Regions from separate parts of the Homo sapiens genome. Here regions 2 and 3 are each linked to region 1. The links come from fine-mapping of genetic effects on gene expression. A gene starts in region 1. Each other region holds a variant in brackets. All regions are shown on one strand. Distances are from middle to middle. Region 1 holds the start of CDC42SE2 (CDC42 small effector 2). Region 2 overlaps LOC105379173 (a long non-coding RNA gene). Region 3 overlaps LOC105379173 (a long non-coding RNA gene).

Region 1 (2,762 bases):
TTCATCAACAGTATGTTATGTGGGACAAAAACTAAAAAACGTATATCAAAAATACATACTGTTTGCCGACATTCTTTCCTTAATCATAATCAAGGAGTATGTGCCTAAATTTTACTAGATGTGAGATAAGCTTTGTCTGATATTTCAAGATTCATTCATTCAACAAATACTTTACTGAGCACGTACTATAAGCCAGGCCCTTCAACGAAACATTTAGATTTTGTAAACTGCACATCACCCCCCAAAATTCCCCTAAAAAAGCTTATCATTTAAAATAATTGCAAGCTAAAGAGGAATCCCCAATGTTGTTTCTTACACATAGTGAAGTCAGCGGATCGGGGCGCTTTTTCAGCTGTTAATGCGGCATCAAGGAGCCGCTACCTACCACACCCGTTGCCTAAAATCGCAACTTAAAGCTGCAAGCACTGGGTAAAACAACCTGTAAGAGTAGCTCAGCTCCCGCGACGAGGTAGCCAAGGGCTTTCAAGCCCGGGGCCCGGGGCGAACCGCGGCAGGACCCGCGGACTGAACGCGTCGGGCGCCTCAGGCGAAGAGTCGGAGCTCCGGAGCCAGGTGTCTTTGCTCCCCGAAACCCTCACCTAGAGACCCCGGGCCCTCCCCGCCCGCCCCTCGCACCACCCTCCCGACTTCCAGACGTGAAAAGTTGGGGGGAGGGGGGGGGTCTGCCTTTCCATTTTACATCAGGCGGTCAGTTGGCTGCCTCAGCTGTCCGCCTGCCGTGAATTCTGAACTGAGCGTGTAACCATTCCTCAGAGGAAACAGAAGAAAAACCAAAGGCAGGGTCCTAGGGCATGAGGACCTCGCCCAAACCTGAAATGGAAGACGCAGGCTCAGCCCACAGCCCGCAGCGCGCGGCTGGCAAGGCCGGGCCGCGCTCACCCCAGAGCCCTCAGGGACGAGGGTTCGGGGCTTCGGGACCCCGCCCAAGGGACCGAGAGGGCGAGGCGTGGCGGCCGACGCGCGACTGGGGCTGGCATTGCACTCACCGTCGCCTTTGTCTCAGCCGCCCGCTCCGGCCGCAGCCCCTCTCAGCGCCGGCTCCGCGGCTCCTGCCGCCCCAACGCCTGCAGCTGCGCTCCCCAGCGCGCTCGCAGCTTCCTGGCTCCCCCTCCCCGCCCAGGCTCGCGCGCGGGTTGGGCGGAGCGAGAGGCGGCGCGCGCCCCTAGAGCGGCCGGAGGGGCGGGCGCCGTTGCGCAGCTGCAGCGACCGCAGTGCTGGCCCCGCCCCCCGCCAGGCCCCGCCCCCGCCGTACCTCCGGCATGGGCGAATCGGCCGGCAGGCGATGGGACCCCCGGGATTCGAGCCGCGCGGGTTAGGAATTGGCCTCTGTAGCTAACGGACGCCTGAGATCCGGGACTGCAGCACTCGCGGGAAAGGACGCTCCGAAAGATGGCGACCAAACCTGGGCGGGAGCGTGGGGGAGCCCCTTCCCACCCCGGCCCGGGCCGCGGACATCCGTGCGGAGGAGCGACGTCTGCGCACGTTGTGGGGCGGTGGACGCGCACAGGCGAGGGTGGGTGGGTGGGTGCTGAGCGGTTGTGGGATGAGGGGTCTCTCAGTAGCGGTTGAGAGCCCATCCTCTGACCACTGCTTTTTCATGTAAAAGTCAGAATCGTTCAATCAGTCATTAACTGGTTTAAGGCTGGCTAAACCACCTGGTTTGAAATGCGTGAAAATTACACATGTACTAGACTTCTGTGATTCCTTTGGGTGTGTATTTTACATATCTCAGAAATCAGAAACATGAGTGCCCTATCTAGCAGCCAGCAGTCCACCAAAATGCCTACAAAACTTTATCGTAAGTTCAAAAGGATAGCGTAATGCCACTGAAGTAAGCTCTCGAACCTGTAAGTAATGTATGGTCTTCCCCATTCTAGGTTGATGGCGAGGATTTCTAGTTACTCAGGCCAAAAACTTTATATCATCCATAACTCCTCTCATACTCTCATTTTCACTTTCAATCTGTCAAGAAAGCTTGTTGGTTGTACCTTCAAAATAGAACAGAGTGGGCAACATAGCGAGACCCTGTCTCTACAAAAAAAAAAAAAAAAAATTACCCTGGTGTGTTGGCGTGTACCTATAGTTCCAGGTACTCTGGAGGCTGAGGCCAGGAGTTACGTTACAGTGAGCCATCATCAGGCCACTGCACTCCAGCTTGGGCTGGACAGAGTGACACGTGTTCCAAAAAAAAAAAAAATTCTCCATCTTTCCTACCTTACTATTTTTCCTTTCATCCCATGACACTTCCCACCTTGTAACAATCTTTATAATTCAGAGTCAGCCCTCCGCATCCATGGCTTCTGCGTTTCTGGATTCAACCAACCACAGATGGAAAATATTTGGGAAAAAAAACACAACAATTTAAAAATACAAATAAAAACCAATACAATATAACAGCTATTTACATAGCACTTACATTGTATTATAAGTAATCTATAGATAATTTATACAGGAGGATATATGTGGGTTATGTGCAAATACTATATCATTTTATATTAGAGACCTGAGAGGATTTTGGTACTGGTCGTGGTCCTAGAGCCAATCCCCCTCGGATACTGAGGTATGCCTGTATTTATCTGATATGTTTAGCTTTTAGTGTCTGCCTTCCCTAGTAGAAGCTGGGATTTTTGTCTGTTTTGTTCAACTGATGTATCCCAAGTCCCTAGAATAAATGAAAAATTTAAAAATTCCCTGAGATTAAAAAAAACTAAAGCAACAAAAAATGACCAATTTTTTTTATT
Region 2 (2,762 bases), 130 kb before region 1:
TCCTGTTCTAGGCACTTGGAGTACACGCAGTAATTGCTCAAAATCATGTTATATCTTTGGACCTGTTTTTGGTTTAGACAAACCTATCTAGAATTGTCTTTCCTTTTTGTTTGTTGATGGTAAAATGTATGACACAGTTTGGATATTTGTCCCCACCCAAATCTCATGTTGAATTGTAATTCCCAATGATGGAGGTGGGGCTTGATGGGAGGTGTTTGGGTCATTGGGGCAGATCCCTCATGGCTTGGTGCTGTCTTTGCAATAATGAGTTCTTGTGAGATCTGGTCATTTAAAAGTGTGTGGCACCTGACCAGGTGCGGTGGTCATGCCTGTAATCCCTGCACTTTGGGAGGCCGAGGCAGGTGGATCACCTGAGGTCAGGAGTTGGAGACCAGCCTGGCCAACATGGTGAAACCCCGCCTCTACTAAAAATACAAAAGTTAGCCAGGTGTGGTGGCACGTGCCTATAGTTCCAGCTATTCAGGTGCTGAGGCAGGAAAATCGTTTGAACTCAAGAAGCGAAGGTTGCAGTGAGCTGAGATTGCACCACTGCACTCCAGCCTGGGCAGCAGAGCAAGACTCCATCTCAAAAAAAAAACAAAAGTGTGTGGCACCTCCCCCACAACTCTCTCTCTTGCTCATGCTCTGGCCATGTGATGCCCCAGAAGCTGAGCAGGTGCTAGCACCATGCTTCCTATAAAGCCTGCAGAAGCGTGAGGCAATTAAACCTCTTTTCTTTATAAATCACCCAGCCTTGGGTATTTCTTTATAGCAATGCAAGAAGGCCTAACACAATGTGTTAACTATATTACTAACATCTCAGCTTCAATGTCACTGTCTCAGCACGGTGATATTTTAAACTACAATTCCTCTCCTACATCCCCAGTTATTTATCCAGAGCACTTACCATTTTCTAATCTGTTACATAATTCACTTTATTTGGCTTAATGTCTTTCTGCATCCCCCCACTAGAATAAAAACTCTTGGAGGCTTAAGAAATTTGTTCACTGCTGTATCCTCAGTGTCTAAACAGTACCTGGGCACATAATGCTCGATAAAAAATGTTTTGAATGCATGGTATCTTCCTGCTATTGAATGGTATCCATTTAATCATGCTTCTTGTAAACAGTTGTTCTAAAAATCTCTCATTGTTTGTTCTAATTTGGATAGAATGCCTTCTAGGTTGGCTTCAGACCTAGAAATCCTGAGATTTAATTTTATTACTGGATTTGTTCTCTATTCTTGCAGAGTGTTTTCAGGATGGGTGTGTGGAAAGTAAAGCCATTCATTGCTAGTGTAATCATCTTTATTCTGCCATCTTACTTCATTGAGAGTATGGCTGTAGACAGAATTCTAGTTCAAAATAATGTCTTCTCCAAAGTCTGAGGGAAGTGCCCCCTTTTATTCCAGACCACAGTATTGCTGTTGAGAAATCTGGTAATCTTCAAAAGTTGAAGGGATAATCAGAGAAATAATTATTTCCCAGAGCTGAATATGAGAGTCTTCAGAACAAAACGTCCTTGAGGGCTGTGAAGTGAGAAAGTATAAATGTAAAAACAAATTTTTTGAAATTTCAAGAGACTTTTTTTT[A/T]AAATCTTTTTCCTCTGAAGAGCATTTTCCTTGCTTTTTGTAAAACTCCCGTTAATCACAGATTGGACTGCCTGACCCTCTACTGTGTCCTTCACAGTAGAATGAATATTTCCTAGATTCTTTTGTTGTTGTTGAGACGGAGTGTCACTGTGTCGCCCAGGCTGGAGTGTAGTGGCACGATCTTGGCTCACTGCAACCTCCGCCTCCTGAGTTGAAGCGATTCTCCTGCCTCAGCCTCCTGAGTACCTGGGATTACAGATGTGCACCACCAAGCCTGGCTAATTTTTGTATTTTTAGTAGAGATGGGGTTTCACCATGTTGGCCAGGCTGGTCTCGAACTCCTGACCTTGTGATTTGCCCACCTCGGCCTCCCAAAGTGTTGGGATGACAGGCGTGAACCACTGTGTCCAACCCTTAGATTCTTTTTTTAAAAGAGATAGGGTCTTGCTATGTTGCCCAGGATGGACCCAAGTCCTGGGCTCAAGTGATCCATCTGCCTCACCCTCCAAAGTAGCTGGGACTACAGACATGCGTCACCATGCCCAGCTGATACTTTTCTAAAATGTCTATCTGATCATACTAGTTTCCTATAGGAATATCAGATTGAAAAGAGGGAAGAAGGGACAAAGGACTGCTTGTTTCTGTTTCTGGTTTTAGGAGTAACAGATCCTTCTATGCTATTGGCTTAGATGGTCTGTGGCCTTAATTCCATTGTGCACAGATTGGATGTGGCTGCATTTAGAGAGGGACAGTCGAGTCCCTTATTAGGTACACTTACGCTGTACCTATCCAGAGAAAATCAGGTGAGCAAAACCTACATACACTTGTGAAAAATGATAATAGGACACAATGGACATTATGGACATTGGAAAGAGATTGAACTTAAAATTACCCCATTTGGAATCTGGGTGGTTTTGCCAAAAGACAGAAGCAGAGTGGTTTTTACTTCCTTTGCAGTATTTCTGAAAAGTAAAAACAGTTTTTTGCAGAAACCCAGAAACAGCAGCTGAAATGTTTTACATACTCCCTAAGGAAGCAGCGCCCAGCAGATGAAGCCCTGCGGGAGAGCACAGCAGCAGCGGAGGCTCTGGGGGAAGGCGTGGTGTCTAAGGCAAAGGACTCTGCCAGCTTACATATTTATTTGAAAGACACAGACATAAAAAGGATGAATA
Region 3 (2,762 bases), 140 kb before region 1:
TAAATTTTGAGGTAGTCCAACTTGTGTATTTTTACTTTGGTTTCCAGTGTTTTCAGTATCATATCCAAGAAATCATTGCTAAATCCAATGTCAAGAAATTGTTCCCTCTATGTTGTCTTCTAGGAGTTCTATAGTTTTCAATCTAATGTTTAGGTCTTTAATCCGTTTTAATTTTTACATATGGTATAAGGTAAAAATTAGACTTCATTCTTTTGCATGTGGATATCTAATCCCAGCACCATTTGTGGGGGTAAAGAAACAAAACTGTCCTTTCTCCATGGAGTGGTCCTTGCACCCTTGACAAACATCATTTGACCACACATGGGAGGATTTATATCTGGACTCTCTATTCTGTATATTAGTTTATATGTTTGTCTTTATACCAGTACCACACTGTTTTGATTACTGTAGATTTATAATAAGTTTTAAAATTACAAAGGATGAAACTTACAATCTTTTTTCTTCCAACATTCTTCTTTATCAAGATTATTTTCACTCTTGAGGGTCCCTTGAGATTCCATATGCATTTTAGGATGGGTTGGTTTTTTCCTGCAAAAAATGCCATTAAGATTTTTTAAATATTTTTTATTTTTGTTTGTAGAGATGGGATCTCGCTTTGTTGCTGAGGCTGGTCTCAAACTGCTGGCCTCATGCGATACTCCCACCTTGGCCTCCCCAAATTCTGAGATTACAGGCATGAGCTGCCACACCCAGCCACCATTAGGATTTTGATACCAATTGCATTAAGTCTGTGGATTGCTTTGTGTAGTATCAACAGTTTAACAACAGTAAGTCTTCCGATCCAAGAACACAGTATGTGTTTTCATGTACTGATGTCATCTTTAGTTTCTTTCAGTAACATTCTGTTAGTTTTCAGTATACATGTCTTTTGCCTCCTTGGTTAAATGTACTCCTAGGTATTTTTTTTTAAATTTCTGATGCTAATGCAAACAATTGTTTTCTTAATTTCCTTTTCAGGTTTTTTATTGTTATGACACAACTAATTTTTTGCCTGTTGATTTTTATACCTTACAACCTTGCTGAATTTGTTTATTAGTTCTAACAGGCTTTTGGTGTTGTCAGGACTAATGGAATAATTAGGATTTTTCTACATATAAGATTATGTTGCCTGTGAAGAGAGATCATTTTACAACTTCTTTTCTAGTCTGGATGCCTTTTATTTCTTTTTCTTGCCTAATTGCTCTGGCTAAGACTTCCAGTATTTTGTTCAGTAGAACTCATGAAAGTAGACAACCATGTCTTGTTCCTGATCATAGAGGAAAAGCTCACAGTCTTTCACCATTGAGTATGATGTCTGCTGTGGGCTTTTCATATGTGGCATTTATTACATTGAGGTAATTTTCTTCTCCTAGTT[T/CTTT]GAATGTTTTTATTGTGAAAGGGTGTTGAACTTTGTCAGATTTTTTTTTTTTGCATCACGTGAAATGATTATGCGGGTTTTTCTTTCATTCTGCAAATGGTGGTATCTTTATATTGAATGATTTTCCTATATTGAACCATTCTTGTATTCCAGGAATAAATCCCACTTGGTCATGGTGTGTAATCCTTCTAATGTGCTGTTGAAATCTATTTACTAGCATTTTGTTCAGGATTTTGCATTGCATTTTACTTGCTGCTTTCAAGATTTCTTCTTTGTCTTTGCTTTTTGATTATAATGTTTCTCAGTGTAGGTCTCCTACTTGTTAATTGAGCCTCTCATATTTATATTTCCATTTCATTCCTCAAAGCTGGGAAATTTACAGACATTATATTTTTCACATAAGGTCTTTTCCCCTTTCTCTCTTTCTTCCGTTTGAGACCCTTTTAATGTATATATTGGTTGGCTTGATAGTGTCCCTTAAGTCCCTTAGAAACTCTTCACTTTTCTTCATTCTTTTTGTACCTGATTCAGCACCTTCAAATGTCATGTCTTCAAGTTTGCTGATTCCTTCTGCTTCGAGTCTTCTAGAGAATTTTTCAATTCAACAATTGCATTTTTCAGCTCCAGAATCTGGCTTTTAAAAAAATTTCTCAGCCAGGCATGGTGGCTCATGCCTGTAATCCCAGCACTTTGGGAGGCCGAGGTGGGGATCATGAGGTCAAGAGATCGAGACCATCCTGGCCAACATGGTAAAACCCCATCTCTACTAAAAATACAAAAAAAAAATTAGCTGGGCACGGTGGCACATGCCTGTAATCCCAGCTACTCGGGAGGCTGAGGCAGGAGAATTGCTTGAACCCAGGAGGCGGAGCTTGCAGTGAGCTGAGATCGCGCCAGTGCACTCCAGCCTGGGCGACAGAAACTCTGTCTCAAAAAAAAAAAAATTATCTGTTAATATTCTCATTTTGCTCATAAATTGTTTTCCTAATTTTATTAAGTTGTGTTCTATTTTAGCTTACTGAGCACATATTTAAGATACTTGTGGTGTTTTTGTTTTGTTTTGAGACAGAGTCTCATTCTGTCACCCAGGCCGGAGTGCAGTGGCGCAATCTTGGCTTACTGCAACCTCTGCCTCCCAGGTTCAAGCAATTCTTCTGCCTCAGCCTCCTAAGTAGCTGAGACTACAGTCACGTGCCACCATGCCCAACTAATTTTTGTATTTTTTAGTAGAGAGAGGGTTTCACCACATTGGCCAGGCTGCCTTGAACTCCTGGCCTCAAGTGATACACCAGCCTCAGCCTCCCGAAGTGCTGGGATTACAGGTGTGAGCCACCACACCCAGCCCGACAGTTGTTTACATACTTTGTCAAGTAAGTCAGAGGTCTGT

What was found. PIP is the estimated chance that this variant, and not a neighbour inherited with it, causes the effect.
Region 2: its variant is fine-mapped to the expression of CDC42SE2 in whole blood (TOPMed, PIP above 0.99).
Region 3: its variant is fine-mapped to the expression of CDC42SE2 in whole blood (INTERVAL, PIP above 0.99).

Annotation. Positions count from the first base shown.
Region 1 is chr5:131,262,412-131,265,173 of GRCh38, reverse strand. CDC42SE2 (CDC42 small effector 2) reads right to left here and starts at 1,121. Exons shown (of 5, transcript NM_001375635.1): 1 at 1,008-1,121. RefSeq lists enhancers at 1-659, 1,788-1,837 and silencers at 858-1,507, 1,538-1,587, 1,598-1,667.
Region 2 is chr5:131,396,974-131,399,735 of GRCh38, reverse strand. It overlaps LOC105379173 (a long non-coding RNA gene), which reads left to right. Exons shown (of 3, transcript XR_007058929.1): 3 at 1-2,762. Among named protein-coding and RNA genes, the nearest start is that of CDC42SE2, 130 kb to the right of the region's middle. The variant A/T (reference allele first, on the strand shown) is at 1,591.
Region 3 is chr5:131,401,233-131,403,994 of GRCh38, reverse strand. It overlaps LOC105379173 (a long non-coding RNA gene), which reads left to right. Exons shown (of 3, transcript XR_007058929.1): 3 at 1-2,762. Among named protein-coding and RNA genes, the nearest start is that of CDC42SE2, 140 kb to the right of the region's middle. The variant T/CTTT (reference allele first, on the strand shown) is at 1,376.